Homo sapiens: one gene and its partners. The protein of the gene in region 1 interacts with the protein of each later gene in a biochemical or structural test. Each region holds a gene or a part of one and is shown in the gene's direction. Other genes may lie near its edges.

Region 1 (7,788 bases):
AGCACAGGGGAGACAGAGCGGAAGGAGGAGAGGTGTGTGGGTTTGCGGATTTGGTAGTGGGAGATGAGGGAGTCCTCCTGTGGTGGCTTCTGTTTTCTCCGGGAAACATAAGCAGTGTTCATTGAGAAATTAACTCCTGTATCATTTCTCCCTGCCCATAGTGACTCAGCCGGAAGAAATGAAAGGCATTAGCCAGGGCCAGGCACTGCAGCTCATGGCTGCTGTAATCCCAGCGCTTTGGGAGGCTGAGGCTGGAGGATCTCCTGAGCCCAGGAGTTCGAGATCAGCCTGGGCAACATGATGAGATTTTGTCCCTACAAAAAAAATTTTTTTTTTTTAATTAAAAAAGCATTAGTCAAGCTTTTGTGTTCTAAGTCCTGGGCCTTTTTTCTCCCACCTCATACCTGAGAAAGTAAATAGGCCGTTTTGTAGTTCTTGTGTCTGAGCTAAGAGGGAGAATACCACTGTGTCTTGGGGAATTGATGCTTTGGCATGGAAGAGAGGGGCAGGGGAACAGGCATTCTCCATCCCACCCTGACCTGCCCCCAGAAGAAAGTGGCTGCATGCGATTCGAAAGCCAAGGACTAAGGGCTGCAACTGCGGGGGCCTGTGGGAGAGGTCCTCTTGAAAGAGCTGGGATGGAGGGAGTAGAGGGTTATCTTCCCAAGGACCAGGTTGGACAAGTGAGGCCCTGCAGATGGGCAAAAAATAGTGGAAGCCCTGTGACTGTGACCACTGATGTCTGCAACAGCAGCAGCAGCAGCCTGAAAAATCCTTCCACCTTTCTCTGCAAGGCTGTGGAGCACGGACTGACCATCTCTGGGATTGTGCAAACCCCTGGAGTTCATGGATGATCGGAGGGAGCTGAAGGGCAGCCATGAGTGATAGGGAAATCTTGCTGATCTGATGGGTAGAGACTCAAGCTGAATTTAATTTGGTTTAGACCAACTAAGGGATGACCAAAAGGTGTATTTACGTCATGAGTTGCAGAGAGTGTCCAGTTGGCCCAGGACCTGGACAAAGGGTGAGCAGTGAGTGGGAGCTGACATCTGGCTCTCTCCTCACCCTGCACCCTGGGGCTGGAACACAGCAGACACACAATGACCACATGGTGCCACTCGGCCTTCACAGATGAGCACAAGGACATCCCTCCCCGCCAGGCCCAGGAGCAGGGCAGCAGGGCAGCCCCACGTGGACCCCGTGCTCACAGTTTGGCAAACTGGACAGAGCCTTGGCTCTTCTCCTTCAGCAGCTATCACGCTCTCCCAGGCCCGGCCACCTGAGCTTCTCATCCATGTGGCTTTGGCACCTAGGCCTCTAGTTTCATTACCTTGGGTTTGTATCTAGTTCCAGATGGCGTACATGCAGAGATCTGGGCAGGCTGCTTACAGGCATTCTCTTGCCCTGCCTCGACAAACACTTTGCCACATGTGGGTGAATGAGAGGGCAGACGCCAATGGGTTAGGATTCTGAGACCCCTGTGTCCCTGTGGGGTTTGGAGCAAGAGACTGGTTGGCACAGCAGTGAGCACATCTGCTAACTTCAACCACAGGAAGCCAGGGGTCCCAGCTCACCTACCTTCCAGTACTGTGCTCAGTAGCCTTGACAATGCGGGGCAGAGGGAACAGGGCTGCCAGAGCTTCAGGACTACCAAGGCCCAGGCTAGCAGGCACACAGGCTAGCGAACACCACGAGCCCCTCTTCTAGTGCATGCCAGGGCTACAGAAGACTGGGGCTGGATGAGCTCTAAGACTTGGTCAGGGAGCTGTTCCCTCACTTAGTCATTTATGTCTGATGGTTCCTTGAGCACAGATAGGAAAGTCAATCTTCATTCTTTAACAAATATGTATCAAGTATCTATTGTGTGTGAGGACCCTGTGCTGGCCACTGGGATATGACAGGGAACAAGGTGGACTCATTTCTCCTGCCTGCAAGGAACTGCTGTCCACAGGTCAGGGAGATAGGCACAGATACAAACAGTGGTGACAGCCAGGATGGCTTCCTGGAGGAAACAATGGTTCCAAACAGGTACAGTTGGCTCTGAGGTGCCAAAACACACTAAAGGTAGAGCAAGTCTTTTATTTTATTTTATTTTTTAAAACAGAGTCTTGCTCTGTGGCCCAGGCTGGAGTGCAGTGGAGCAATCTCCACTGCAACCTCTGCCTTCCAGGTTCAAGCAATTCTCCTGCCCCAGCCTCCCAAGTAGCTGGAATTACAGGTGCACACCTGGCTAATTTTTGTATTTTTTTTTTCTTTTAGTAGAGATGGGGTTTCACCATGTTGGCCAGGCTGGTCTCGAACTCCTGACCTCGGGTGATCTGCCCGCCTCAGCCCCCCAAAGTGCTGGGATTGTAGGCGTAAGCCACCATGCCTGGCCAGTAGAGCAAGTCTTAAGGGGCATTATATTATAACTGCATGCAAGAGAAGTTAGGACCAGTTTGGCTTTGTGCGTGTGTGGACTGAAACCCAAAAGCCAGAAACTCTCTGCATGTGTCCCTCATGGAGCCATATGGTCTCTAGTCTCTGTTTTTCAAAATTTGCAGGACTGATGACTGATTGGACAGTGGTGCAGGAGGGAAGGTCTCTGCATGTCAGTGATTAAATTGCTGAAGATGCCACTGCCTGAGACGGGCAGTATTGAAGGTAAGCAGATCTGGGGTGGGCGGGACAGAGGAGGCTCTTAGTTATATGGATCTGGAGCTCACAGGAGCGGCCCAGACTGGAGATAGAGACTTGGAAGTCATCAGCATATGGTTGGTAGTGGTCAAGATGATCCAGAGAAAAGGGGCAGAGCAGGAGAAAAGAGGAGGCCTAGGACAGAGTCCCGGAAGAGCAGAAGACGAGGTGGTAAAGGAATCAGAGACAGTAGCCAGTGAGGAGAGGGTGGGCCAATGAAGCCAAGGAAAAGAACTGTTTTAATAACTCAGCAATGGGCAGGAATAATTGGCTGAAAAGTATACTTTTAAAATTTGGGGGCCGAGAGGGAATCTCTAAATCCTCAAAGTTCTGGAAAAAAAGGCAAAAATGCTTAAAGATGCATAAAATTTGCAATACCTCCCCCGTGGTGCACCAAAATTACCAATGGTGAAAAACCACTCACTGGAAATATTCATTTTTGATCCGTTTGTCATCCAAACCAAATTGTCCAGAATCACTGGAGCCAGTCCCATCCCCTCCTCATACGCCAGGGGGCGCACACGCACTGTTTGTGAATTCAAGTTCAGGACAAAAACAGGCAGTGAATCAGGTGGTTACCAGAACCTGATTCCTCAGCCCAGATCCCTGAACACCACAGCAACCATGCCCTGCACATTACCACGTGATCCCTGAATCCAGGCACCTCAACGATCTCCAAATTTTATTTCTCACCTGACTCCAAACTTACAGGGTTATCAGAAAGACCCCACAGAAGAAACCCCACAGAGGAGAAACCTCATCTCTTTTTCTGCTCAGTTACCTGACCCAGGGCAGTGGGGGTAGGTCCCCCATCCTTCATGGTGAAGCCTAGCAAGCGGCGGGGGGAGGAGGGGTGGGGTAGATAGGAAAGAGCTGGTGTGGCTTTGGCTGACTCTTAAGTGGTTTTAACACGGATTGCGTGGGGGCGGGGTCTGGAGGCAGGGGCGCTTGGATTGAAGCTCATCAAATCCCTCTGATCAGTAGGTCTTGGAATAAATCTTCAGGTAGGTTATTGGTTTCACCCAGAAATTTCTAGGGTCATTATTTGAGTTTGGTATGAGAAGTCAGAAACTCAGTACTGACATTTAAATTACATTTAGAGGGCATTATCATGTCTTTAATTCCGAGGCCAATGTAAGGTTCACAGCTGGAATTGGTATAATATTGGGGTATTAGTCAGTCTCTGCTTGGGGTTGACACTAGGTCAGAGAAGTGGAGGGTGAACATGAGGATGAAGGGGCTTTGTGTGGAGTTTCTGCAAAGCCAGTCTTATCTTGGGTTCCAAGATTATTATTAAAGCTGGGTTGGTTTAGGGTCCTAAATGGTCTCAAGTTTGGGTGGGGTTTCAGGTCAGTATCTGTGTTTGGGGGTCCTTTTATGGTGACCCAATCCCAACTCTGGAATTGAGAATCGAATTCAGAGTGCATTGGTGTTGATCTGGGAATGGGAGAGCAGTACTGGAGTTTTATGTAAGGCTTGGGGTTCAGAAGAGAGATAACTGGGGTCCATAGCAAGGTAGCTTTTGGACTTTAGGGTTCATTTAGGGACTGGGGGCTGAGCATTAGTACAGGGTTCCATTTAAGGTCCAGCGTTGGTGCTAGCGTCACTATCAAGGTTAGGGCAAGTAGAAGTAATAAAGAGATTTAGAGTCAGAATTGGTATTTGGGATCAGTATAGAGGTTCACAACAAAATTACTACTTGTGCTAATTTGGGGGCAGATTAAGGGCTTTGGACTCAATATTGGGTTTAGGGCAAGGTGTGGGCTCAGTATCAGGTTCAGATCTGTATGGGGAGGAAATGGGGTCCTAGAGTGGTATTAGGTTCATGCTAGGGCTGGGAGCCACTAGAAGGATCTGGATGTAGTATCAGAGTTTGGTCTGTCTATGTTCATTATTGGGGTTCGGGTTCAATATTGAGGTTCCGGTCGGTTTCGACTTGGCGTTGGGTTGTGGCCTGTCTGGGCCTCAGCGGCTCCGCGGCTCTACGAGCGAGAGTGCACGAGGGGAGGGGCGCCGCCGGGGGCGCGCACGGCAGGGGCAGGGGCGCGGGCGCGAGCGCGAGGGGAGCGCGCGGCTGGAGCTGGCGCGGGAGCGGCGGGAGCGGTGGCGGCGGCAGAGGCGGCGGCTCCAGCTTCGGCTCCGGCTCGGGCTCGGGCTCCGGCTCCGGCTCCGGCTCCGGCTCCAGCTCGGGTGGCGGTGGCGGGAGCGGGACCAGGTGGAGGCGGCGGCGGCAGAGGAGTGGGAGCAGCGGCCCTAGCGGCTTGCGGGGGGACATGCGGACCGACGGCCCCTGGATAGGCGGTGAGTGACCCCCCGGCCCCCCACCAGCCCCCTCCGCTCCCGTCCCTTCCCCGCTCTCCTTGCCCTCCCCGCTAGTCCACCCGGCGGAGCTGGGGGCGGTCCCGGGGGGGACGAGGGCGCCGCTGAGGCCGGGCCGCGCCCCCACCTGCCGCGCCCGCAGCCTCGGCGAAGCCCCCCCTCCACGCCCCAGCCTGGCGGCTCCTCCCCGCTCACCCCGCGGCAGACGCGCCCCCAGCGCTGCTGGCTGGCTCGCTCCCCGCCGCCCCTCGCCGCCTCCCTCCCTCTCCACCGCACCTTAGCCGCAGCCCGCCCCCCCCACCCAGCGCAAAGTTTCCCGTTTGCGTTCTTGCTCCCCCTCATCGGTCCCGCCTCGTCCCCCCTTCTAGCGCGGACGCGCTCCGGGGGCGGCCCTCAGACCCCCCAGCCCCGGGCTCCGGGCGGGTCCAGGCCGCGCCCCCGCCCCCGCCGCACAGGCGCCCCCTCCCAGCCGGCGGGGGATCCGCAGCCGGCGCGCCCGGGTCTCGCTCGCGGCCCCGGCGCACGTGCGGTCCCGGGCTGCGCCGGGCGCGAGTTTGAAGCCCCCCCACCCCCTTCGTTCGCGAGCACGGGATGGGGAGGGGCCGAACGGGCTGTACCCGCCCCCAACCGGGTGCAACGCCCTGGAGGCCCTGGAGCGACCTGTCCCGTGAGGACGTGGCCACTCGGACCCTCTCCGAAAGTTCACTCAGTGGCCGCCCCGCGTCCCGTCCCGTCCCGTCCCGGCTCCCCATCGCCGTGCCGGCGTCTCTGTCTCGGCTGCTTTCTGTTTTCCTCGGCGTCTCTGCCTCCCCGTGTCAGTGCCTCCCAATCTCACGCCCCTGCAATCCCAGGGTCTCTCCAGCTGTCTCCATTCTTTTTCCCCAGGTCACTCTGTTCTTTCTCCCCAGGTCTCTCGATTCTGTCTCCCTGGGTCGTCTTGTTCCCTGTCCCTGAGTCTGTTCTCTCCGCTTGGGTCTCTCTATTTCCTCTCCCTGGGTCTCTGTCTCCCTCCTTAAGTCTCTGCCTCTTGTCTCTCACCCATCTCTTGGTGTCTCTGCACTCTCTGTGCTAGGCGCCCCCCCATTTCCCTGGAATGCTGCCCCTCTGGTTCTTCCACCCCGGAGGGGGAGGGGCTAGACTTTCTCCCCATTTCAAGCCCCCCTGCCCCCCAGTGCACGGCCCCTGAGTTGGAGCAGGTTGGGGGTGGGGAGCGCTACCTGCCTGAGCTGTGAAATGGGAGAGGGAGGCTGCCCCAGCCTGGGGGTTGTCTGGATCTCCCTGAGGGGCCACAGGGCAGGGCCGGGAGGCTGGATTAGGTTGAGGAAGGCTCCACTTTTGAAGGAACAGGGGCAGGGATCCAGAGCGATCTGGTGTCGGATCTGGCCTGAGAAGCAGGGAAGTGCACTGGGGTGAGAGGCGTAGAAAAGGATGTGGGGTGGTGGTTCCAGGCGGGTGCTCATGGGGAGGAATCTGCTGAGAAGGGAAGATCTGGTGGGGAATCCTTTGGGAGGCTTCGGGGATCTGAGGGATCCAGAAGAGAGTTCTGACAGGCTATCTAAGGAAATTTCTGTGCTTAGCTCCTTATTAACTCTTGCTTCAGGGAGCATGAAAATCCCTGTTTTTTTACTGATTATATGAATGAGCCTAGGGCTTCAAGAAGGAGCAGGTGTAACTCCCCAAGTACAACCCCCTACATTCTCAGCCCCAGGCACAGGCCACACTTTCTCGTACCCTCTTGCCTTCATTTCCACACTCAGCTCACCCCCTCCACCCCCACACACACTCCCTATTCAGCTGCTTTCTTGCCCCCTCTCGCATACCTGGGCCCGCATGCCGGCCAGGGCTCAAGAAATCTGTGCCTGCACACTCTCGCAGCATACCTGTGCACATGCACAGTCATCCTTGTGTATTTTTGTATATGCACTTTCTTGCACATTTTACTTGCTCAGTCTCTTATTTGAAATGTCTTTATAGTGTTTTTTTTAGTTTCCTTTATAGTTTCCTTTTCCAGCTGCTCTTCCTCTTCCCTCTTTCTTTCCTTTAACAAGAAAATTGTTTTAACATAATTCCTTCCTTCCTTCCTCCCTTTCTTCCTTCTTCTTGCAACTACTGATACCTCCCCTTTATCCAGCTTTGTGTGCCCTGGGCGGGTTGGCTTGGTGTACAAGGCTGCCAAGAGAGGAGGGGGTGGTTGGGTGTTGGTGAAGGAATTTGGCGGGGCAGAGTTAGACTGCAGCAAACGGAAACTAGCTACACATCTTTTACTGGGAAGTGTATGGATACGCAGCAAAATACTAGCCCTGGCAGTTTGGGCACAGTCCACCCTTTTTTCCATCAGCCTGAACTATGGGAGTCTAGCTTTGAGGGTCCTCCCTGGGGGCGGGGAGGAGGGGACCCAGACCTCCTGCAGTAGAGGGGTTGTGATACACACCACGGCTCCTCCACTTTCCAGCTTCAGGCCTCAAAGAGGCCCCTTTCTCCCTGAGTCTCAATTTCACTCCCTGTAAAATGGGGTAGCTAATCCAACCCGGACTGGGTCCCAGGGCTGTTGTAAGAATCCAAGGGAACTGTGTGGCAGTGCATCGTCAGCAGTGGCAGTCACTTCCCTTGTGACTGACACTGCTGTGTGCTTGGTTCCAGCTTGCAGTCAGGGCCCTACCCTCGAGAAGCTCGTGGTCCTTGGGGGAGCAGGTTGCACCATGGGATTGCAAAAGCAATTCAGTTACCTGTCATTGATTGCTGACTGTGTGCCAGACCCCGGGGTAGGCGCTTTCGGCCCCGGCTGCCTTTCTT
Region 2 (7,155 bases), on another chromosome or scaffold:
CCTATATTTTTCAGACTGTGGGGAGAGAAGAAAAAGACTTTGAGAAAGTGACTAAGGAGGGAGTAAGAGTGATACAATCTTTGATTCAATTTAGTTGGACTGTGTTCTTTATGCCTTCATCTTTTTCTTTATAAAAAAGATAGCGTTTTTGATGCTCTGCTCCAGGCAGCCTCCCAGGGTGAGTGCAGATGTGCTGAGCCATTTGGCTGCCTTGAGGACCGGCTCAGAGAGCCTCTCTTCTCACTAATGAAGTCATCTCCTCTCGGCAGCCCGGCCTCTCCCATCACTCCATGTTGGAACTTGGCTTTGGCTTGCATAGTTCTGTCGTGATGTAGATGGTCTTTCAGTTAAGTTCTAGAGAAATCTGCTCAACCATGAACAGGACATTTACAGCACAGGAGAAAAAAAAATTTATTAAAACAAATATTTTACTGTAACATTTTGATTTGGGGGTTGGAGAGCAAAAACTCAATATCTGATGTCTGGGAAAAATCTAATGTTTTATGGCTTTCTAAGGAAATTTGTCTGTGTTTAATTTATCAGAGCAATTTATATACTTCGGGTTAAAGCACAATGAGATTGCCACCATCACTTTGCCTTTTGCAAGATTTCTTTTTTAAGAATAAAAAGAAGGCAATAAAGACCTTGTATTTCTGCCTTTCCTAGAAAGCCAAAGAGAATTCAAAGTGCTGGATGAAATGTCTGTCCCTAATTTGCAGTGTTTTATTTAAAAAAAAAATTATGACACAATCTTAGAGGATAGGCTTCCTTTTTCCAGGGTCTTTGAAAGTTAAAAGTACATTTTTAATCTGTAGCATTACTGTATCATCCAGTGAGGATAATTTGCTTAGTTGTGCCTAGGACCAGTCAGATCAAGGAGTTGAAACTAAGCTCTTTCTGAATTTGAATGGGACTGGAATCTTGTCATCCCTAGAGCAGCAATAGATGATGCCATGTCTAAGAACACTTCACCTGATCAATAAAAAAGGAGAAGTCTGAAATGTAATCCTAAAGAACCTCAGAAGGAGGTTTAGATGAAGATAATAAAATTCCCTGGAGACACATCTGCCATCTACACCTTTCCTCTCCAAGTCATTGGCTTGCTGCCCCTGAGCTCAGCCAAATTCCCAAAGACAAGATCAAAGCAAGGAAGCAAGGCACATAGCTTCTGGCTTATGGTTTCTTTTAGACACAAGCATTGTGAATGAAGATCTTGCTTTATTTATACCTGGGATCTTGGAGTTTTCACAAAGAATATCCCCAGTACAAGGATGTGATTTAAAGGGGGACTCACAGAATAATATTTTAATTACTGTTTGATTCATACTTGAGTGTAATGGACAAATAAATACAATTTTAGTTATAAAACCTGAAAAATATATATTTTCCCATTCAAAAACTTCTGATAGTTTTGTCAGGCATTGGAGAATCAGAAATAAATGCTCTCTCATTTTCTTTCTCTTGATGAAGGAAAGTCATTAAAAACAGTTACATAGAAATAATAATACAACTGTAGACTCTATTCTAAATATAGCTGGTATGTTTTCCTTTTTCTTTTTTATCCATTCTCCATTTTAGACAGCTAGAGGGGAAAGTCTGCCCTAGAGATAGAAAGAAGATATCCATGGGGTATAATTTCATTTTAGTTATCTGATAGCCTGAAGAAGTATTTAATTTTCTGAATAATAATGTTACAAGTCAAAGAAGAGAAAAGACAGGCAGTTTAAAGCTTTTCAACATTGTGCATATTCTAATTCCTTAAGTCAGCCCTGAGAAAGTGCCTTTGTCCTGTAGAAGTATTTGGTCAAGTGTTGTGAAGTCTATTGGCATTAAAAGAAACTAAAAATTTTGGAGGATTAGAGAATCAAATTTGGCAACATAAATGAAAACATCTCAGAATGTAAAAAGTATCTAACCCATCACTTTCAATCATGTTCCATTATATACAGATGGCATTATTTATAGTGAATGTTAACTATTAACATTTCCCTAAAAATGGGCATTAATCTGCTATTAGTTGCTTGTTTCTGATCTAGTTCTCCTTTGTTGAAAGGTTTTACTTAACTGTATCATAAAGGGACAAAAGGGTAAAAGATAATAAGCTTTTCAGACTGGCAGATCTGTCACTTACAAAATGGCCTTGGGCAGGTTACTTGAACTCTTTGAAACTCAACTAGATTTACTCAAATTTAAGAATGAGAATACAAATCCACATCTTGAAGTGTTTCACAGAAAGGTCTATCTTAATGTCTGGAGTATATATTTCAATGAACATTCATTTTATTTTATTTCTCTCCATTCCTGAATCAAGCAATCTTGAATCTAAAGTTGCTATGATTAGCACTGAAAAGACCACTGGACTATTAATTGTGTGACTTTGGGACAGTAACTTTCTGCACCTTAGTTTGTTTACATGTTATACATGAAGGTTGAAGTCTGATTCTGCTCTGTGACTATCATTCTAAACATCTGATGAAATCAAATTTCAGTGTTTGGAATGGTAGTACAATAAATTTACTAAGAATAAATAATTCACTGCAAAAACACATTGATTTCCAAATGATGTAACTGACAGTTATATTACTGCAGAGGGCTGATAAATAACAAAAGAAATGAAAGATGCACATGGTGAGAACTGAAATTATCCTGACAAGTCTTCTACCTGTTTATCACTTAAAATCAATGACCATGCTGAATGCCTACAAATTACAAAATATAAAAGAAATCTTATAAATGCGCATGTACAGGAGTCTAAGTTACTAAAAGTTTTAAAGCATAAGTTTAAACCAAACTAATCAAAGAAGTTGAGAGGAAAAATTGGCTTTCATCTTTAATCACTACTGTTTTGAGGTCCTATGTTTAATATAATTTTCTAAGTAGAGGCTTCAGAGAGAAGAGTTGTGAGGATACTTTCATATTTGTGTAGAAGGAAAAGTTTGCCATCCATTCTAGTATCCCTAGTGTTATACTGATGTGCACCTTGGATTTATTTTGTTCCTATTGTATAAACTCATACTTGACTTCAAAGAAAAGGAAAATCCAAAGTCCCTCTTTTCTAAGGGGACAGAAATCCTTTGTGTCAACTGTTTGACCCTTTTCTCTGTAAGGTCCTATTGGAAATCTTTTGTAACACAATGCAGGGGACTCTTCCATGTGTTGATGCTGTTTACACAGTGGGGTGGGCCTGACTGAAGAAAAAAAATCGCATATACGCATGAAAGATTATGGTCTTATTTCCGGAAAGCATGAAAGGTGATTGATACTTCCAAGAAGTCCCTGTTACTCAGGAAAATTATCAAATATTCTACTCAGAGATACTTGGAAAGACTGAAGGAAAGGAAGAACGAAGAAAGCAGAATCTAGACTTATGTGGGGAGAGATTTGTGGCAGAGGAAAAGTATTCTCTTTGAATCCGACAAGGGATTTGCCTGGGGGAATTTCCTGTCCAGCCTTTTATTACCAGGGTCTTTTGAAGCCGGGCTCCCCATTGGGCAGTTCCCTGGGAGTGCAGTGGGGAATTCTTACACTTTCCCTCTAGGTCCCCGAAGGATCTCGTTTTCTCAGTGTCTCTTTCAGGTTGGCAGGAGCCTTGAGCCTGACACTTCCCTTTGATGGGACAGGCAAGCTCTGTGGGCGCGTAAACACGCTGTAACCAAGTTCTTTGCTGATTTTACAGTTTTGTGTGCTCCCGAGAAGAAGTGATCGTACTCAATTGTCTATTGCTGGCCTGCCCCCTAAGAGCCTGGGGGCTCCTTTCCCCTAACCCAGAACTAGCTGCACGGGGGGCGGGGAAATGGGGGTGGGGAAGGAGTGGGAGGGCAGTGGTTTCCGCGAGCAGAGCGATGTTACTGAGTGAGTCCCTGAATGGGGAGCGCTGCTGTCCCCAAGCCGATTGGTACTTCTTGTCAGGAAGAAACGCCAAGAGGTGGGAGTGCCTGGGGAGGGAGGCAGGCGGTCCCTACCGCAGGCGCGGGGAGCTGCCTTTCCGCCCCTCCGCCTGCTTTCCAAGCCTGGACTCTTAGGAGTGGCTGAAGCTGCGGAGCGCTTTTGGAGCCTGTGAATGAACCCTCCTCCTCTCCCTCCTCCTTCTTCTCGCTGAGTCTCCTCCTCGGCTCTGACGGTACAGTGATATAATGATGATGGGTGTCACAACCCGCATTTGAACTTGCAGGCGAGCTGCCCCGAGCCTTTCTGGGGAAGAACTCCAGGCGTGCGGACGCAACAGCCGAGAACATTAGGTGTTGTGGACAGGAGCTGGGACCAAGATCTTCGGCCAGCCCCGCATCCTCCCGCATCTTCCAGCACCGTCCCGCACCCTCCGCATCCTTCCCCGGGCCACCACGCTTCCTATGTGACCCGCCTGGGCAACGCCGAACCCAGTCGCGCAGCGCTGCAGTGAATTTTCCCCCCAAACTGCAATAAGCCGCCTTCCAAGGTAATCACGTTTCTTTTGTTCCCCCCTTAAAAAACAAAAACAAAAAACTTATAGAAAAAAACCCGCGAGCTTAGAAAAAAGAAGCAATTGGTAGAAGGCTTTAATTAAGGCAAAGAGCTGTAAGGCGAAGTTAAGAAAATGTAGGCACTTAAAAAATGCAGGTAACTTTCATAAGGGCTTTTGGGGAGAGGCATACAGAGGGACCTTGGTGTTGAAAAAGATTCAGACAAAAGAAACCCAGGGTGGGGTGGGGGGTAAAATGACTAACGGAATTGGGGGAAGGGAGGGAATAAATTGTAAAGAAATCATAGAAAAGTGGTGGGTTCTTGAGCTGGAGAGAAGAGAGGGACCTTTGGCACTTTGATTTTTTTGTTGTTGTTGTTCTTAACACGCTCGAGGCAAAAGTTTGAATGGGGACTACCAAGACTTGCCACAGACAAGTCCCCGAAGCCGCCTTGGTGCAGGCCACCTGGTTTCCCAGCCCCTGGTGTGTGGTCAGTGCCTGGTGTTCCTGGAAAGCCACTCCCGGGCAGCTCCTGACAGTGCGACCCGGCGCCCAAGCAGCCTGGGACCTTGCGCGGACCTGACCCCTTCAGACCGCAGGCAGTCTGGGAGGAGGTCCGGCCGGGGGAGGTGCAGGATCCCCGCCGTGTCTCTTTGACGACTTGGGGACTGTCACGGTTCTCTCCCGGCGCCCCTGGGTTCTTTTGTCCTGCACGCGGTGCGAAGGGGCCAGCAGGGAAGGAGCAGAGGATGGGGGGTGGGGTTGTTGGAGCCCCGCGGAGGTCTGGGAGGCCCCTGGGCGGGAAAAGCCTGTTCTGAATCGGCAGGGATGTGCAACAATTTTTCTCACCCTGAAGAGTGAAATAGGGTCTGTCGCTCCCATCTCAACAAGCAAACCGGCACCCAGAGCGCACTGCAGACAAAGGTGGCTCGGGGACCCGAATCAGGGGCCTCTGGGTCAGTCCTCTCGCCCAGACTACAGGAGTCCTCCGTTTCCTTACATATTCCCCACCCTCTCCTAGTTCTCCGCTCTAGTTGAGCAACTTTACTGGCAGGTCTAGCGGCAGCGGCGCGCGCGTGTGCCGGGAGCCCCGGGGGACGTCCTCGGCTGGAGCGCCCCACCGTCCTGCAGAGGCGTGGGCGCTGTAGGGCGACATCCCTGGTGCGTGCAGACCTAGGGCATCCGGGTTGTTCTGGCCCGCGGTCTGTGTCACTGGGCGTGGAGCGGTCTGGGTGTTAGGCAGAGGAGAGCGGGGTAGAAAAATAGTGTCATAGCCTAAACTATTTGCTCTCCAATCCAACTGCGTCTCGGCAAGTCCTGCATGTCCCTGGGAGATGCTGCGGGAAGGGGGAGAAATCTACACGGCGCCTGGAGAGTTGTCCTGCCGCGCGCACACCCGCGGCAGAGTCTCTCTGGGTCGCGTTCCTCATCTTTGTGTCTCCCTCTGTCTCCATCTTCTCTGCCTCCCTTCCCCTCTCCCAGCCTCTGTTCTCTCTCTCTAGCTTCTGCGTCCCCTCCCCCACAGCTGACAAATGAATGGCTAGTGTGAAATCCCTGCCTTTCCCGTGCTCCAAGGCAGCAGGGAGGGAGGAGCGAGGGAGGCGGTGCGCTCCTTCGGATCTGCCCCCAGTTCAGCTCACAAGACTTGCAGAACCTAGATGTCTAGGAATTGGGAGTTTTGCGGCGGGTGTGGGCGCCCCCTGATGGAGAAGTCCCGCACAGGCGGAGAAAAACAAGCCCCCCAGACCAAGCGAGCATCTTTCACAACCTTGTGTTCAAGGATGGAAGGCCCTAGTTTTCCCTTAAGTCATTCATTTTGCACTCCACAATCTGCGGCGTACATCTAGGAGTTTGGAGGACCCTGAAAAAAGGTCTTGGTCTGTGCAAAGTGCAGAGATGCCTTCTCGCGAGTCGGCTGGAACGCACGCGGCGCCCTGGGTCCAGTTCGCCGCTTAGTGGACGAACGCACATGGCCAGGGTGGAGCCAGGTTTCGGAGGTCTAGACGCGCCACCCTGGGCGTCTTTAAGAAAGATAATACACATACCGTGCTCTCAAAACCCATGACCACTTGAACCCAACGCTAGGGCCCCGCCCCAGGATATTGCAAAAGAAGGGCTCCTAATCCAAAACTTAAACTTCCTCAACTTCAGGGCGGGCGTCGGACGGGAAAGTGGAGAGAAGGCGGGCAGTGGGAGGAAAAAAGAAAGGGAAGGAAGGGAAGTGGAAGGAAAGAGGACCGTGGAGGGGAGGAAAAGGAGAAAGGAACGGAGATGGGGCAGATGGCATTCAAACAGCCAGGAACGGACCGGAAGGGTTCGTTTCGGGGTTTGGGTCTGAATTTCGAGACTCGTTTTAGGATACTCTTTTCCCTTTCCCAGCGGCAACAAATGTGACTGCAGAGGCGTGCCGGGATGGAAGGGTGGGAAAGAACTAGACAAGCGGAGGTGGTCCAGCCCCGCCCAAAGGGGCTGGGTCTGGGGCCCGCCCCCACTCGCTCACCTCGCGCCAAGGGAGGACCCGCAACGGGCGCTCCCCGCAGCGGCTGGGTTAGCCAGCCGCCACGTGGGTTGGCGCTTCGGCTCCCAGCCGAGACGGGTGTGACTTCCTGGGCTCAGAGACTGCAGTACAGCCGCACAGGCGGCCGGCGCAGCCGAGGCCCCCACCCACCGAGGCCAATGGGGGCGGGGCGGGGAAGGCAGGGCCCAGCTTAACCGA
Region 3 (7,029 bases), on another chromosome or scaffold:
ATGTACAGAGCATGAGCCAGCACTTAGCCAAATAATGAAATGGAAGAACTCTGCCAAACTCAGCATCATAATTTCCCTTAATAAAACTCTACTGTGTCATTTAGTTTGGTCTCTTTTTAAAACTTGAGCCTCCATCAGCCTATTTTAGGGGAGGGTACTACAAGGTCTGTTGCATAAATGATTTGACTTGCAATTGAACTAAGAATACAATGAACCACTTCCTAGAGTTATTTTTTAAAAGAATGAGAAAGGACTTCTTTGAAAAAAGAAGTGTTTTCTGAATATAACTATTTTGGGTCTAAAATTTTTGCTCATTTCCTAAAGTCCTGTACCACATTGGAATTGCTTTGTATTTTGTAGAACAGGTTTTGTATTCTAATATAGAAATTCTTAACTTGCCTTGTTACCTAAATTCAAATGCATTCCAGAATAATCCCTGGCACATAGTAGGTGCTCAGTAACTATTTGTTGACCCCTTAGCTTTCTACGTTTCTTCTTACGAGGGCATTGTCTCCTCTTAAGCATAATATTCAACAAATGCCACGTGCTATTCAGTGATTTTTCATTTCATAGCCACTTGCATAACTTTTACCTCTTTAAAATCTAGCCATTTTGCAGTCTCATCAATGTGGAACCCAACTAAAACTAAAGTAGGAAATAACCAGTGCCTAAGATTACAGTTTCCTGTCATCTGGCAGGGAAACGTGATACATCTGGGAAATCTTTTCATCACAAATGCTTGATAAGGTATAGTACTGGAATCCGATGTTGTGAGGTGACTGTCAGCAAGTTGCTTAATCTCTTTGGCTTTGGCTTGGTTTTTCTTATCTATCAAATGTGAGAGCAACACTCAGTGATCTCTCTGGTCCCTTCCAACTCTAAGACTTCTGTGATCCTATGCTTCTCAGGCCACCTCCCCCCTCCAGTCCTGTTTGCTCCTTTACAAAAGGAGAGGGGGACATGTAGGGAAGTCTTAACAATCTGTGACTTTAAAGGAATGAACTTTCAGCTGTCCAGCAAATCTGGCTATCCAGAAAAGGCCATTCCTCCAGGGTATATTGGTTAGCCAAAATTTTACTGTACATTAATACATAGTTAGGACTAATTTAGTGCCTAGGAAAACATTTGGGAATGGTTAAAACTGTGGAAAAATCTTAATTCTTGGTAGGGCAGTGTATACAATTACCATTTTATTGTTACACGTATTCCCCCCTTTTAGGCTAGAGCCTTGTTTGGGATGAGGGGAATGGATGTGCACATGCATCACGTAGGAGCCTGACTGTTTTTTTTCTCCTGACACCACTAATCCCCTGTTCCTGTTCCTAAGGGCACTGCTGATAAGTGATATCCAAAGTAACACTCCAGAGCAGGTGAAGTGCATTGCCGGGCTGCCCTGCATCCCAGCATCTCTTCCCTGTGGTGGTATCTGCCTCCAAAAGTCTGTGTTAGCAGAACTGGTGGGTACTTACACAGAAGAATGCACTAATCCTCTGATACTGACTCCAAAAGAGGAGGGTGGGGCAGAGAGAAAGAGGAGACAGGAACTTTTAATTAGCTGCTAGAATGCTATACCTAGCCCCAATCCTTTCTAAGCATTGAGGAAAACAAGTGACCGGATGGAATCAGCTCTTCTACACCCCAAATAATTTCACTTTATAAAACTAGATGAAATGAAGTCCCATTTCTCTGGAGAGGACAGCCAGCCCAATCTGACTTGGGTAATGTTTCTGTCTTTCTTCCTTTCCTTCCTCACAAACTTCCAGTCATAGCCCCATGTGTCCTGCCATATGGTGTCCCTGTTTGTTTGTTTCTCCTTTCTTCCTTTCTTTCTTTTTCTTTCTTCCTTTCCTTTCCTTTCCTTCTTCCTTTCTTCCTTTCTTTCTTTCTTTTGAGACAGAGTCTCACTCTGTCACACAGGCTGGAGTGTAGTGGTGAGATCTCGGCTCGCTGCAACCTCCGTCTCCCAGGTTCAAGCAATTCTTCTGCCTCAGCCTCCTGAGTAGCTGGGACTACAGGCACACACCACCATGCCCGGCTAATTTTTGTATTTTTAGTAGAAACGGGGTTTCACCATGCTGGCAAGGCTGGTCTCGAACTCCTGACCTTGTGATCCGCCCACTTCGGCCTCCCAAAATGCTGAGATTACAGGCGTGAGCCACCGTGCCTGGCAACTGGTATCCCAGTTTCTGCCTGATGTTTAAGCCCCTCTAAATTCTGGCCACACGCATACTCCTGTGCACCTGACCTTATTTCCCGCAATTCCCCAACCCCATTCTGAGATGCAGTGACATGTCCTGTACTCTCCTACAGGTTTTGTTCATTTCATTGAACTTAACTCAGGATGCTCTCCCTTTGTTTGACCACTTAAGTCCAGCCCCTTTCTCGAAAATTTAACCAAAGCCCCACCTCTTTCATCAAGTGTTCTGTGAACACTCTGTGCTTTAGTACTCCCAAGCCTTGGAAAACCTTCACACACCCCCTAAGTTTAAGATTACTCATATTCTGCCTTGTAGAATATATTAACTTTGCCTTCTGCACAGCTCTTGGCACAGAACAGAAGACACCGTAGGTACCCTTCTAAACCTTAATTTGGGGTTAGGGTTCAAAGGACAGCCTTGTAGTCAATGTAATGCAGAAGAAGATGTGCTTCTGTTCCAGTCTGGCAAAGACAAACACTGATGGTTGAGGCTATTAGCAGGACGTGCATGGTGGGCACATGAAGATAGTCTCCTCCACTGCATCTCATGGCTCACCCTGCATAGTTATTTGTAAAAGGATTTTGAGATAATTGAGCAATTTATGTGTGTGTGAGAGAGAGACTCCAGGAGGGAAGGGGGTGGGGGAGGAATGGGTGTTTACAGGGTGGGAGTTGGTGCACCTTGTTTGTTTTGGGTCATCTCCCTCCTCTCCCCTGTCCCAACATGTATCTTTTATCTAATCTATGTCTTCAGGAGGCAGTCCAGGCTTACTAATTGTGATCAATCACAACTCATTCTTAAGTTCATGGCCAAGCCTTCAGTGTCAATGTGATAGAAGCAATTTCTGTCTCTATTTTAGCCCCGCCACTACTGTCTTTTTTTCTTTTCACACATTAGGTAAACCCCACAGCCCAGTGTACCCATGCCCTGTTGAAGATGATCTACTGCTCCCACTGCCGGGGTCTCGTGACTGTGAAGCCATGTTACAACTACTGCTCAAACATCATGAGAGGCTGTTTGGCCAACCAAGGGGATCTCGATTTTGAATGGAACAATTTCATAGGTGAGCAAGTGGTTAACATATTTGTGTTGCTGGAGATAGCTTAGCTTCCAGTCACAAGGAATGTTGTAATTGGCAGCTATGAAATTTGTTTGTTTAAGTGTTTGCTATTTAGTGTTTGTCAGAATCCTGACTACGCTCAACTACTTTGAGAATAGTAAAAACATTACTGCAAGTGAATGTTCCCTCAAACTAATGGTGGCATTTCTGAAGGTAATAGATACAGTGGCTGCCAGGTTTTAATAATGAGAAAATGCCTTTTTCTTGGAGACAGAGTCTCTTTCTGTCACCTAGGCTGGAGTATAGCAGCACAATCATAGCTCTGTGTAACCTGAAACTCCTGGGTTCAAGCGATCCTCTCACCCTCAGCCCCCCAAAAGCCCTGGGATTATAGGCATGAGCCACTCACTGAGAAAGTGTCTTTTTGATATTTCCCGCCTGAAAGTCAGTTGTGTTTATGATTATAGGCTTGTATCCATGTAAATGCTGGAGTACAGTCCTCATGGAGTTGTAAAAGTGGCTTTTAAAATGTTATATCTATTACACTGCAACTAAATCTTCTGCAAACCGGCCAGATACGCATTTGTTATTTGGATCAGGTGAAATCTGATTGAGAAATTCAGGGATTCTGTTTCTGTACACCATTTAGCAGTAGTAGTCTGCTCTGGTGAGAGTGGAAGGACTTTAGCCCTGAGAATTTAAGGGATACATATTCCTGCATATATATTCCACCTAGAAAACCATTCTCAGAACCCAGACAGCAATGTAAATGAAGTGGCCAATTGCAGAGAGGGTTAGTTATGATTTTGGGGAAAGGACAAATTAAGGAGAATTTAAATGTCCAGTTGTCAATTACCTTGATGCCTGAAGCAACAGTAACCAGTGTTGAAGTTCCTTATGCTGAGTATTAGTAGGACCGCACACACATACTAACAGCTCACAAAAAGAAACTCACATTTTTCCCCACCCTAGTCACCTTTGCATAATTGCCGAATTTGAGTGTCTTTATAAGCACCTGTTTTTCACTTATTTGTCCAAATCATGGGAACATGTATGCAGTATTCTGGCTTGGTTTTTTGGGGGGAGGTGAGGGGTGTTAATGTTGGGGAATGCTTTTTAGTCTGTGTGAGAGCTAATTACCATATTAACTCCGTTTGAAAGTGCATCAATAAATTGGCTCCAACAGATTCTTAAGAACACTGACACAGGGGGATAAAAAAAGATGTGAATATTAAGCACTTCAGCACAATTGTAGCCTAAATAGCTCAAAGCTAGAAGACCTGAAAAAATCTTCTACACACAGAAAAGCAGAATCTCATGAAAGGGAAGGCATAAGACCAGCAAAGACATACAGGCCAAATGGCACATCATGCCCAGAATGAAGCCATGGGAGAAATTGTTGATTCAAAATATTTCTCATGGAAGTAAAAACCCATAGAATTTCCAGATCTAAAGTCGCTGTTTTTGTTTTCTCTCTCTCTCTTTAATCCCACACTCATCCCCACACCCAAATGTCAAGTTTGCAGTTCACTTTTGCAAAATTGAATTTTTAAAGAAAGTTGGTGATCCTTTTCAATTGCCCCTATAATTCACTGTTTCTCCAGGCAAGGTAGTAGAATTTGCCATATGGTACAAAAAAGTGTATGGTGACAGTGATCGAATTCTGCTGACTTTTCTACAGACACATTGGGAATGGAATGCAGAAGGGCATGGCCCTTGCCACTATTTTGATACTCTAACATGTCTAGCAGCAACTATAACTAAACTCATATCCTTATATTAAAATACAAATGCTCCTACGTGTTTTTCCTGGAGTTTACAGGTCCATATCAAATCAAAACCACACTCTGGCTTTCTTTATTGATGTTTTAAATCAGTTACTCGAAAACAAAGAGGACTTAAGTTGCTGTTGTTGTTCTTGTTGGGCATTTTTAAAATTACATTTGTTATCTTTGAAGAAACAAACCCAAGTAGAAGTTGATAGGATTTCTGAATCGATTTTTCCCTAGTTATTTTAAGTGATAACTTTTTGGAGGGATGAGGTATATAATTGTATCTAAACTTTGTTTTTAATGGGTATACTATTCTTTATTTCTAATAAGCAGATATAAAAGACCAGGAGTAATAGACATTGTTAATCTCCAGTGCTTTTTCATGAATTTTTCACAAGGGTTTAATTAATCTGCTTTGTGGTTGTAGAATTCAGTCCCAATTTACATGCCTCTGCTGTAAATTCTTTTTTTATTTCTTGTCTCTCTCTCTTTTTTTTTTTTTCTGTTTGCAAGGAATTTTTCTTTCCCCTTTAAATGACTGCAGCTAATGAATGGTCAAGGGCTTTTTCCCCCTTCTTTAAATCAGATCTTGGGGTTAAGTCGGGAAACTGCCTTTTGTTCTTCCAGTCAGGTCGGGAGGCTGAAGATGTGGGTTTCTGATTATTGGCAGCACAATGCAAAAGGAATCGCTTTCCCTAGTGAGAAGGGGATGCTTTGTTGCTGGGGGTATGGGGGGAAACTCAGTGCCAGTGTCTTGAGCACTGAAATAATGCAGTTGGACTAGACCCTTTAAGAGACTAAGGATGAACTGGTTTTCCAAATCCGTCTTCTTGTTGCCATGCTCTTCCTCTCCTCTCTTAACTGCATCTGCAACTGGCCATGAATTGAGACCCTTTAGTAAATGTTGAAGTCTTGTCAGCCTTTTATCAGGATGGATCCAAATAGTTAAAACACCTTAGAACTTGGTTTTATAAGACGCTGGTTTATATGAAACCTTCACTTGGAAATATAAACCAAATACCTCCCTTGCCCCCACCAACAAAAGTCAGTTTCTGGAGAATCATAAATTATGCTATGCAACTTGTTCTCCATCACATACTGTAGCTGTGTTAACACTCATTTGACTCAGGGCCAACCCTATTAATGTCGCATGTTGCTGCCAGTGGGAATTTAGTATTGGGATTGCTGGCGGGGACACCAGCCAGGTCCTGGCAGGAGGCAGGAGCCAGTCAGATATCCCGCAAACAAGGGCCTCCGTGGCTCGTATCAGCCAGAAGAAAACCCAAACTCCAAACCAATCATCTTTGGCTTTCTCTTGAGGCTTCTTATCAGGGCTGGCTGCTGTTACAGAAGAGCCAATTGATAGCCAATCATGACTTCCTCCAGGGGTTAGAGGCAGCTTTGGCTCCCGGGCTGCAGAGTGCAGGCAGAATGCTCTTCAGTTGCATTCTTCAGCTGCGCAACACACAACACCATGGCACCGGCCCCAACAAAGGCCCAGCTTCCCCCTCCATTCCCAGGCTCTTGTGTATAGCCGGCTGGCTCAGAGTTTACAAAGACGCCAAACAGCCAGAAGAATTGGGGTTTATGTTTCCTTTCAGTCTTTCACAAACACATTAGTGATCTGGCCATTCCTTGCCACTAGGGGAATAAGGAGTTACAAAATGCACTGGGTTTTGTTGTTGTTGTTGTTGTTGTTATTTAAACGTCTGCATTTTAGATGTTTATTTTCTGTCTATTCATAATATTTTTATTGGGAGCAGGTGATTTCTTCTCAGCTTACGAAGGAATGTGCTTTCTGTACGTGGCAGCCCTGATGATTTGACAATGATGAACACATTTAAGTTGTGCTCCACTTGTTTACAAAAGTCTCCTTTTGCTAGCACATCAAAAGCATTTTTTTTCTCTCCTGTAGTACAATGGTATATTCATGCTTTCAGCCCTTACTTAGAGTTAGAAGCATCACTTGATTGGCGCTTACCACAATGCATTCTGAAAC
Region 4 (7,029 bases), about 110 Mb from region 1:
TGTGTGTTGAGGGGCAGGGGTTAGAATTCCTGCCCTTCATCCACATCTGAGTGTAGTCCTGTCTTTAGGGAGTATAAGCCAGGAATTCTTTCCTTCCCCAGTACACAGAGGGCTCCTGCTGCCCCCTCTCCCTCAATTCCTCCTGAAGTTATGGCAGAGATGCCTCTGATTAGAGCAGGATTGAAGGTATTGTGACCTGCTACTGAATAGCGGACAAAAGCTCTAGCCTGTAAATCCCTATGAAACTTGGGGAAGGAACCCCCAGAAAGGACCAGTGATGGGCAACCCGCTCGGGTCCCCTTCTACGCTGTGGGAGCTTTGTCATTTTGCTCTTCACAATAAAGCTTGCTACCGCTCAAAAAAAAAAAAAAAAAGAAAGAAAAGAAAACCAGTGAAGCCTCCCTACTTTCCTCACTGTTCAATTTAGAGTTGTGAGGATGAGGAGGGAACCCCAATCTAGATCCCTATAGAGACCTGACAAAATTCCCAATCCGGAAGCTTGTTGCCAGGGGAACAGGGGAGGCGGGCAGCACTATTTTGAGAGCAGGTGGAAAGCGGAGGTTCAATCCAGAGACACTGAGTGTTGGGGGTAGGAGAAGGGAGCTCCAGGGGGGTGGGGGCAGCTGCAACCCCCACTTCTGTCTGCCCCCTCTGCTCCACCCTGTTTGCCTTGTATTTGTGGAAGTGAGCGTGGTGCTGGGTATTGTCTGAAAGAGTTAGCAGAGTTTCCGGTGTTGTTGGATGGGGGAGGGGAAGCTGGAGAGGGCCGGGAGCTGAGGGCATGTCTGGGAAGGGCACGGCCAGGGTCCCAGTGCCTAGGCTCAGCGAATCCTCCTTTCTTCTTCTCTCCTACCCCATGGCAAGGTGGGGTGGAGGATGGCGGAGAAGCAGATGGAGTGTGGGAGCTGTGGATTTGCCTGAGTTGGGGGAACAGGACTCCCTGGGCCTGGAAGGGAGAAGGCCAGGCTTGGTGGGGAGTTGCCTGTCCCTTCTTTACCACTGGAGCCATCAATCAGCCTTGGAGCTGCTGAGGCCCAGCCAGAGTCCAGGGCATGTGGTGCGAGGGAAGGAGCACGGCCTTTGGATTCAGGCCCACCGGAGTGTAAACACCACCTCTCCCACTAGCCGTGTGACCTCTGATGGACGATTTAGCCACTCCAGGACAGGTTCCTCATACATGAAATGAGGATAACTGAACCTCCCTCTACGGGTGGTTAGGATTAAGTAAATGTGGAACATTTACTATTATAAAAGCTCAGGGAATGTAAATTTCCCCTCTGCCCCTAGCCCCCATTCTGGCTGCCTCTGTGCCATCTTCTGTTCTGTGGGAGTCCTCTCTTCCATCTGCCATTCGCAACCACCTTCGTGCTTCTTGAGCTCATCTCTGGCAGCCAGTGACCCCTGCTCCCCTCTGGTCCGCCCTTCAGGCCACCTTGGGGTCAGGATTGCCCATCCCACTTGATTGTTTAATTTCATTCAGCACCTATACCCCCCTCACTTCATTTCCTGCTTGAAGGAAGAGGGAGGTGGGAGGAGAGGGACTGGGGTGTGGTAATGGCCCAGAAGTCGGGGAAGGGGGGAGAGTCCCCGAGGACTGTGTGGCCAGGAGGAGATGGGTGTCTGCATGTGGGTGTGTCCCCTCCTGTACCACCCGGCCCTCCCTTCACCCTCTCTACCCCACCCTCCCAGCCTGCAATGTGACTATCCACAACCGCTGTAAAGACACCCTCGCCAACTGTACCAAGGTCAAGCAGAAGGTGAGACGGCAGGGAGGGCAGAGGGCTGGGGGAGAGGGTAGTGAGTGTGCGGTACCCTCATGCCTTTTCCATTCATTCCCTACCCTGTGTTTCTCACCACCCACCTCCTCACCAAGGGGCAGCCCAGACCCTCAACCCCAGGCCTCGGGCCCCAAGTAGGCCAGGCCTGTTGCTGCAGACATGTCCCCACAGCACTGGGCTCAATCACCCTGATCCCCTTAACCATAGTGCCAGCTTTCTCCTAAGGGGGCCGGCCACCTAGCTCCTGTCCCATGCCTCTGGGGGTGATCCTTGGGTGACAGCCATTCTTGGTATCTCTCTCCTGCTCTCTGTCTCACAGCAACAGAAAGCGGCCCTGCTGAAGAACAACACCGCCTTGCAGTCCGTTTCTCTTCGAAGTAAGAGTGAGTAGTTGGGGAGTGGAGGAGGTCCCCTAAGACCCTGGACCCCAGGCTGCTCAACCCATGGGCTCTGCTGCCCCACTAAGGTTGTTCCCAGGCATAGCACCTTCCTCTTCTTGATTGGAAGCAGATAGTGGGGGCCTAAGGGAGGGTTCGGACTCTTGGACTTAGAGGCAGAAGGGGAGAGAGAGTCCGAATGGGGATGAGGGCTGGGGATGGGTGGTCGCCTGAGCCTGGCCGCAGCCTGCATTTTTATCAGTTATTTACACTGCATTTCGGGAGTGTTGGTAGCAGCTGTCAAGTGTCAATTCAGACAGCTTTGGTGTAACAGAAAGAGCATGGCCCTTAGGTATAAAGAGCAGAGCCTCAGTCCCTGCCTAGCCATTACCCAAGTCACCCTGGACAAGTCTTTTTGTCTTTCTGAGCTCCTGTTTGTTTATAGGCTTATGTCAGGGAGGAGATAAGTAAGAAAAAGCTCTTTGTGAACATTAGAGTATGGCACAAATGTAAGGTGGCATTCTCATTACCATCTTTCTTGACTAGAGGGGCTGAGGTGGAGTGAGAGGATGCCTCATTCCTCATTGAGGAGCCTAGGAGGCCTCAATCCTGGGAAGCACCAGAGTCTGATGTTTGCCTGCTGGGCATCTCTCCCCCACAGCAACCATCCGGGAGCGGCCAAGCTCGGCCATCTACCCCTCCGACAGCTTCCGGCAGTCCCTCCTGGGCTCCCGCCGTGGCCGCTCCTCCTTGTCTTTAGCCAAGAGTGTTTCTACCACCAACATTGCTGGGTGAGCCTCTGTTTGGGGAAAGGGGCAGCCAGAGAGTGTGGCAGTGGAGGCCAAGGGGGTGCTGAGAGGTCCCTTTCCATCCCTGAGTTCAGAACTGTAGACAGACAAATAAGGAGAACTTAGGGGGACCGCCTCTTGGATCCTGGCTTTGGTTCCCTACCTGGGAAGGGATCTTTTGCCCGACTGGGGGTGATGCAGACAGCCTCCACTTTCTTCAGACATTTCAATGATGAGTCTCCCCTGGGGCTGCGCCGGATCCTCTCACAGTCCACAGACTCCCTCAACATGCGGAACCGAACCCTATCCGTGGAATCCCTCATTGACGAAGGTGAGCAGGCCTGGGCCCAGGGGAGCCCTGAGGAACATGAAGAGGGGCTGGGGGATGAGAGGCTGGTGGGAGTAGCCTGGAAGGACAAGGAGGGAAGGGATCTAGAGAAGGGCCAGGGACCCAGGGAAGGGAACTCAAGACCTCTGAGTTGCTTGCCCTGCTAATGTCCAGCAGAGGTAATCTACAGTGAGCTGATGAGTGACTTTGAGATGGATGAGAAGGACTTTGCAGCTGACTCTTGGAGTCTTGCTGTGGACAGCAGCTTCCTGCAGCAGCATAAAAAGGAGGTGATGAAGCAGCAAGATGTCATCTATGGTAAGCCAAGACCACCCTAGTCTTCCTCTTCCTTCACCAGGTCCTGTTTATCTACTTCCTTCTTTATTTTTCTTTTTCTTTTTTTTTTTTTTTTTGAGATGGAGTCTCACTCTCTCAACCAGGCTGAAGTGCAGTGGCATGATCTCGGCTCACTGCAGCCTCCACCTCCCAGGTTCAAGCGATTCTCATTACAGGCGCCTGCCACCATGCTGGCTAAGTTTTGCATTTTTAGTAGAGACGGGGTTTCACCATGTTAGCCAGGCTGGTTTCAAACTCCTGACCTCAGGTGATCTGCCCGCCTCAGCCTCCCAAAGTGCTGGGATTACAGGCGTGAGCCACCGTACCCGGCTGTGTCCTTCTTTCTACCAGCCCCTACCTCTCAAAACCCTTTCCCTCTTGGCCTACAAGACCCTGCCTGGTATCCCACAGGTTGCCCACTAGGTCCCTACCTCTTGATGCTGTTGGTCTCCAACACCCTCTCTTTATCCCTTCTTTATCTCTGTCTTCAGTCTTTACTCTGTGCTTGTTCCACGCTTAACACCGTGCTGGAGACTGTGGGAAGCCTCGACATGTAGAAGACATATGGTTCTTACCCTAAAATAGCTCACAGCTTGAGATGATAAGGTGTAAAGATAAAAAATGGAACTGGGCGTGGTGGCTCATGCCTATAATCTCAGCGATTTGGGAGGCCGAGGTGGGAGGATCACTTGACGCCAGGATTTTGAGACCAACCTAGGCAACAAAGCAAGACCTCTGTCTCTAAAAAAAAAATATATATATATATATATGTATATATATATATATATATATATATATATATTTTTTTTTTTTTTTTTTTTTTTTGAAGCAGAGTCTTGCTCTGTCGCCCATGCTGGAGTGCACTGGCGCTATCTCGGCTCACTGCAACCTCCGCCTCCCAGGTTCAAGCAATTCTCCTGCCTCAGCCTCCCAAGTAGCTGGGATTACAGGCGCCTACAACTACACCCGGCTAATTTTTGCATTTTTAGTAGAGACAGGGTTTCATCATGTTGGCCAAGCTGGTCTCGAACACCTGACCTCAGGTGATGCACCCGCCTCGGCCTCCCAAAGTGCTGGGATTATAGGCGTGAGCCACCGTGCCCAGCCGTCTTTAAAAAATATTTTAAAAAACTAGTCAGGTGTGGTGGCATGTGCCTATAGTCCCAGCTACTTGGGAGGCTGAGACAGGAGGATCGCTTGAGCCCAGAAGTTCGAGGCTGCAGTGAGTTATCATTGTGCCACTACACTCCAGCCTGGGCACCAGAGTAAGACCTCATTTCTGGAAAAAAAAAAATAATAATAAAATTTTTGAAAGATAAAAATGAGGGCCGGGTGTGGTGGCTCATGCCTGTAATCCCAGCACTTTGGGAGGCCGAGGTGGGGAGATCACGAGGTCAGGATTTCGAGACCAGCCTGACCAATATGAAGAAACCCCATCTCTACTAAAAATACAAAAATTAGCCGGGCCTGGTGGTGCGTGCCTGTAATCCCAGCTACTCAGGAGGCTGAGGCAGGACAACTGCTCGAACCTAGGAGGTGGAGGTTGCAGTGAGCTGAGATCGCGCCATTGCACTCCAGCCTGGGCAATACAGTGAGACTCTGTCTCAAAAAAAAAAAAAAAAAAAGATAAAAATGATTAGAAAAGTATCTAAGATCATAATAATGCAGAATATTAACCTGGAATGGACCTTGAAAACCTCACGTGAACTGTGAGGTCCTTATCCTAGGGCCCCACGAGTTTTAGCCAAGCCAGGGTAGAGGCCAAATGTCCCAATGTCCCCCACAGAGCTAATCCAGACAGAGCTGCACCATGTGAGGACACTGAAGATCATGACCCGCCTCTTCCGCACGGGGATGCTGGAAGAGCTACACTTGGAGCCAGGAGTGGTCCAGGGCCTGTTCCCCTGCGTGGACGAGCTCAGTGACATCCATACACGCTTCCTCAGCCAGCTATTAGAACGCCGACGCCAGGCCCTGTGCCCTGGCAGCACCCGGAACTTTGTCATCCATCGCTTGGGTGATCTGCTCATCAGCCAGGTGGGAAAAGGCAGGACCCCTGGGTGACATTCATGGAAGGAGGTGTGACTGGGTTGGGCATTTCTTGGGTCCAAATTCTAGGGGTTGGAGGGGAGCCAGGGAGAGCTGGAGAAACAGGAAGCCAGCCTGTTTGGCAGGAGGCCAGAGGTGTGTCCAGTGGGTAAAGTGTGGCTTTGGGGGAATGCTGACCTAACCTTACTCGACCAACTTCTAGTTCTCAGGTCCTAGTGCGGAGCAGATGTGTAAGACCTACTCGGAGTTCTGCAGCCGCCACAGCAAGGCCTTAAAGCTCTATAAGGAGCTGTACGCCCGAGACAAACGCTTCCAGCAATTCATCCGGGTGAGCGGACCTCTCCAGATCCCATGCTCATGGCCCAAACCCACCCTCCCCAACTCATGGGGGTAGTGCCTGTGAGCTGCACCCACATGGAGGTCAGGCATTCGCCACCCGTGCAGACCATCCATACACAGATCCTGTCAGCAGTAACCCCTCAGAATGCTAGAGCACGTTGTGGTAGTTTCCCAAGTACTTTTTGCTCCTTCAGTTGGTCCTCACAACAAACCTGTGGCGTTGTTATCCCCATTTTCCAGATATGTCACCTAGGCAAGCATGAGGTAAATGGCCACGCCAGGGCCAGCACCAGAGCTCAGGCCCCAGGCCTTTCTGTTGCCCTCCCCTCTGGCCCTGAGCCCTGCCTCCTCCCTTGTAGAAAGTGACCCGCCCCGCCGTGCTCAAGCGGCACGGGGTACAGGAGTGCATCCTGCTGGTGACTCAGCGCATCACCAAGTACCCGTTACTCATCAGCCGCATCCTGCAGCATTCCCACGGTGAGTAGGCAGGCCCAGGAGAGGGCCACTGGGAGACGGCCACCTGGGGTGAGGAAAGGCTCGGTATGACCACAGGAAGGGTGGGGTCGGGTGTGAAACCCTGGGCAGCCTCTAAAGGTGGAATCAAGACACGATGGGAACTGGGGTGTGAGTGAAACTGGTTGAGCCGTTCCCCATGCCAACCCCCGGTGCCAGGGATCGAGGAGGAGCGCCAGGACCTGACCACAGCACTGGGGCTAGTGAAGGAGCTGCTGTCCAATGTGGACGAGGGTATTTATCAGCTGGAGAAAGGGGCCCGTCTGCAGGAGATCTACAACCGCATGGACCCTCGGGCCCAAACCCCAGTGCCTGGCAAGGGCCCCTTTGGCCGAGAGGAACTTCTGAGGCGCAAACTCATCCACGATGGCTGCCTGCTCTGGAAGACAGCGACGGGGCGCTTCAAAGGTCAGACCTGCTCGGCAGACTAGGCAGGAATTCAAAGTCAGATGGAGAGTGGGAGATGCCTGCAGGTCTTAGAATCAACCTCTCTTGGCCGGGTGCAGTGGCTCAACGCCTGT

The links.
Region 2: the proteins of PTPRF (region 1) and VCAN form a complex in vitro, tested with the Homo sapiens proteins (one study listed by BioGRID).
Region 3: the proteins of PTPRF (region 1) and GPC4 form a complex in vitro, tested with the Homo sapiens proteins (one study listed by BioGRID).
Region 4: the proteins of PTPRF (region 1) and ARHGEF2 form a complex in vitro, tested with the Homo sapiens proteins (one study listed by BioGRID).

Annotation. Positions count from the first base shown.
Region 1 is NC_000001.11:43,526,114-43,533,901, forward strand, and holds the start of PTPRF (receptor-type tyrosine-protein phosphatase F isoform 1 precursor), read left to right. Parts: upstream 1-4,769; 5' UTR 4,770-4,977; intron 4,978-7,788. UniProt on the Homo sapiens protein: Possible cell adhesion receptor. It possesses an intrinsic protein tyrosine phosphatase activity (PTPase) and dephosphorylates EPHA2 regulating its activity.
Region 2 is NC_000005.10:83,467,589-83,474,743, forward strand, and holds the start of VCAN (versican core protein isoform 1 precursor), read left to right. Parts: upstream 1-4,155; 5' UTR 4,156-4,435; intron 4,436-7,155. UniProt on the Homo sapiens protein: May play a role in intercellular signaling and in connecting cells with the extracellular matrix. May take part in the regulation of cell motility, growth and differentiation. Binds hyaluronic acid.
Region 3 is NC_000023.11:133,307,490-133,314,518, reverse strand, and holds part of GPC4 (glypican-4 precursor), read left to right. Parts: intron 1-3,095; coding exon 3,096-3,261; intron 3,262-7,029. UniProt on the Homo sapiens protein: Cell surface proteoglycan that bears heparan sulfate. May be involved in the development of kidney tubules and of the central nervous system.
Region 4 is NC_000001.11:155,961,548-155,968,576, reverse strand, and holds part of ARHGEF2 (rho guanine nucleotide exchange factor 2), read left to right. Parts: intron 1-1,689; coding exon 1,690-1,757; intron 1,758-2,097; coding exon 2,098-2,161; intron 2,162-2,816; coding exon 2,817-2,946; intron 2,947-3,164; coding exon 3,165-3,274; intron 3,275-3,445; coding exon 3,446-3,589; intron 3,590-5,393; coding exon 5,394-5,644; intron 5,645-5,858; coding exon 5,859-5,984; intron 5,985-6,354; coding exon 6,355-6,472; intron 6,473-6,667; coding exon 6,668-6,916; intron 6,917-7,029. UniProt on the Homo sapiens protein: Activates Rho-GTPases by promoting the exchange of GDP for GTP.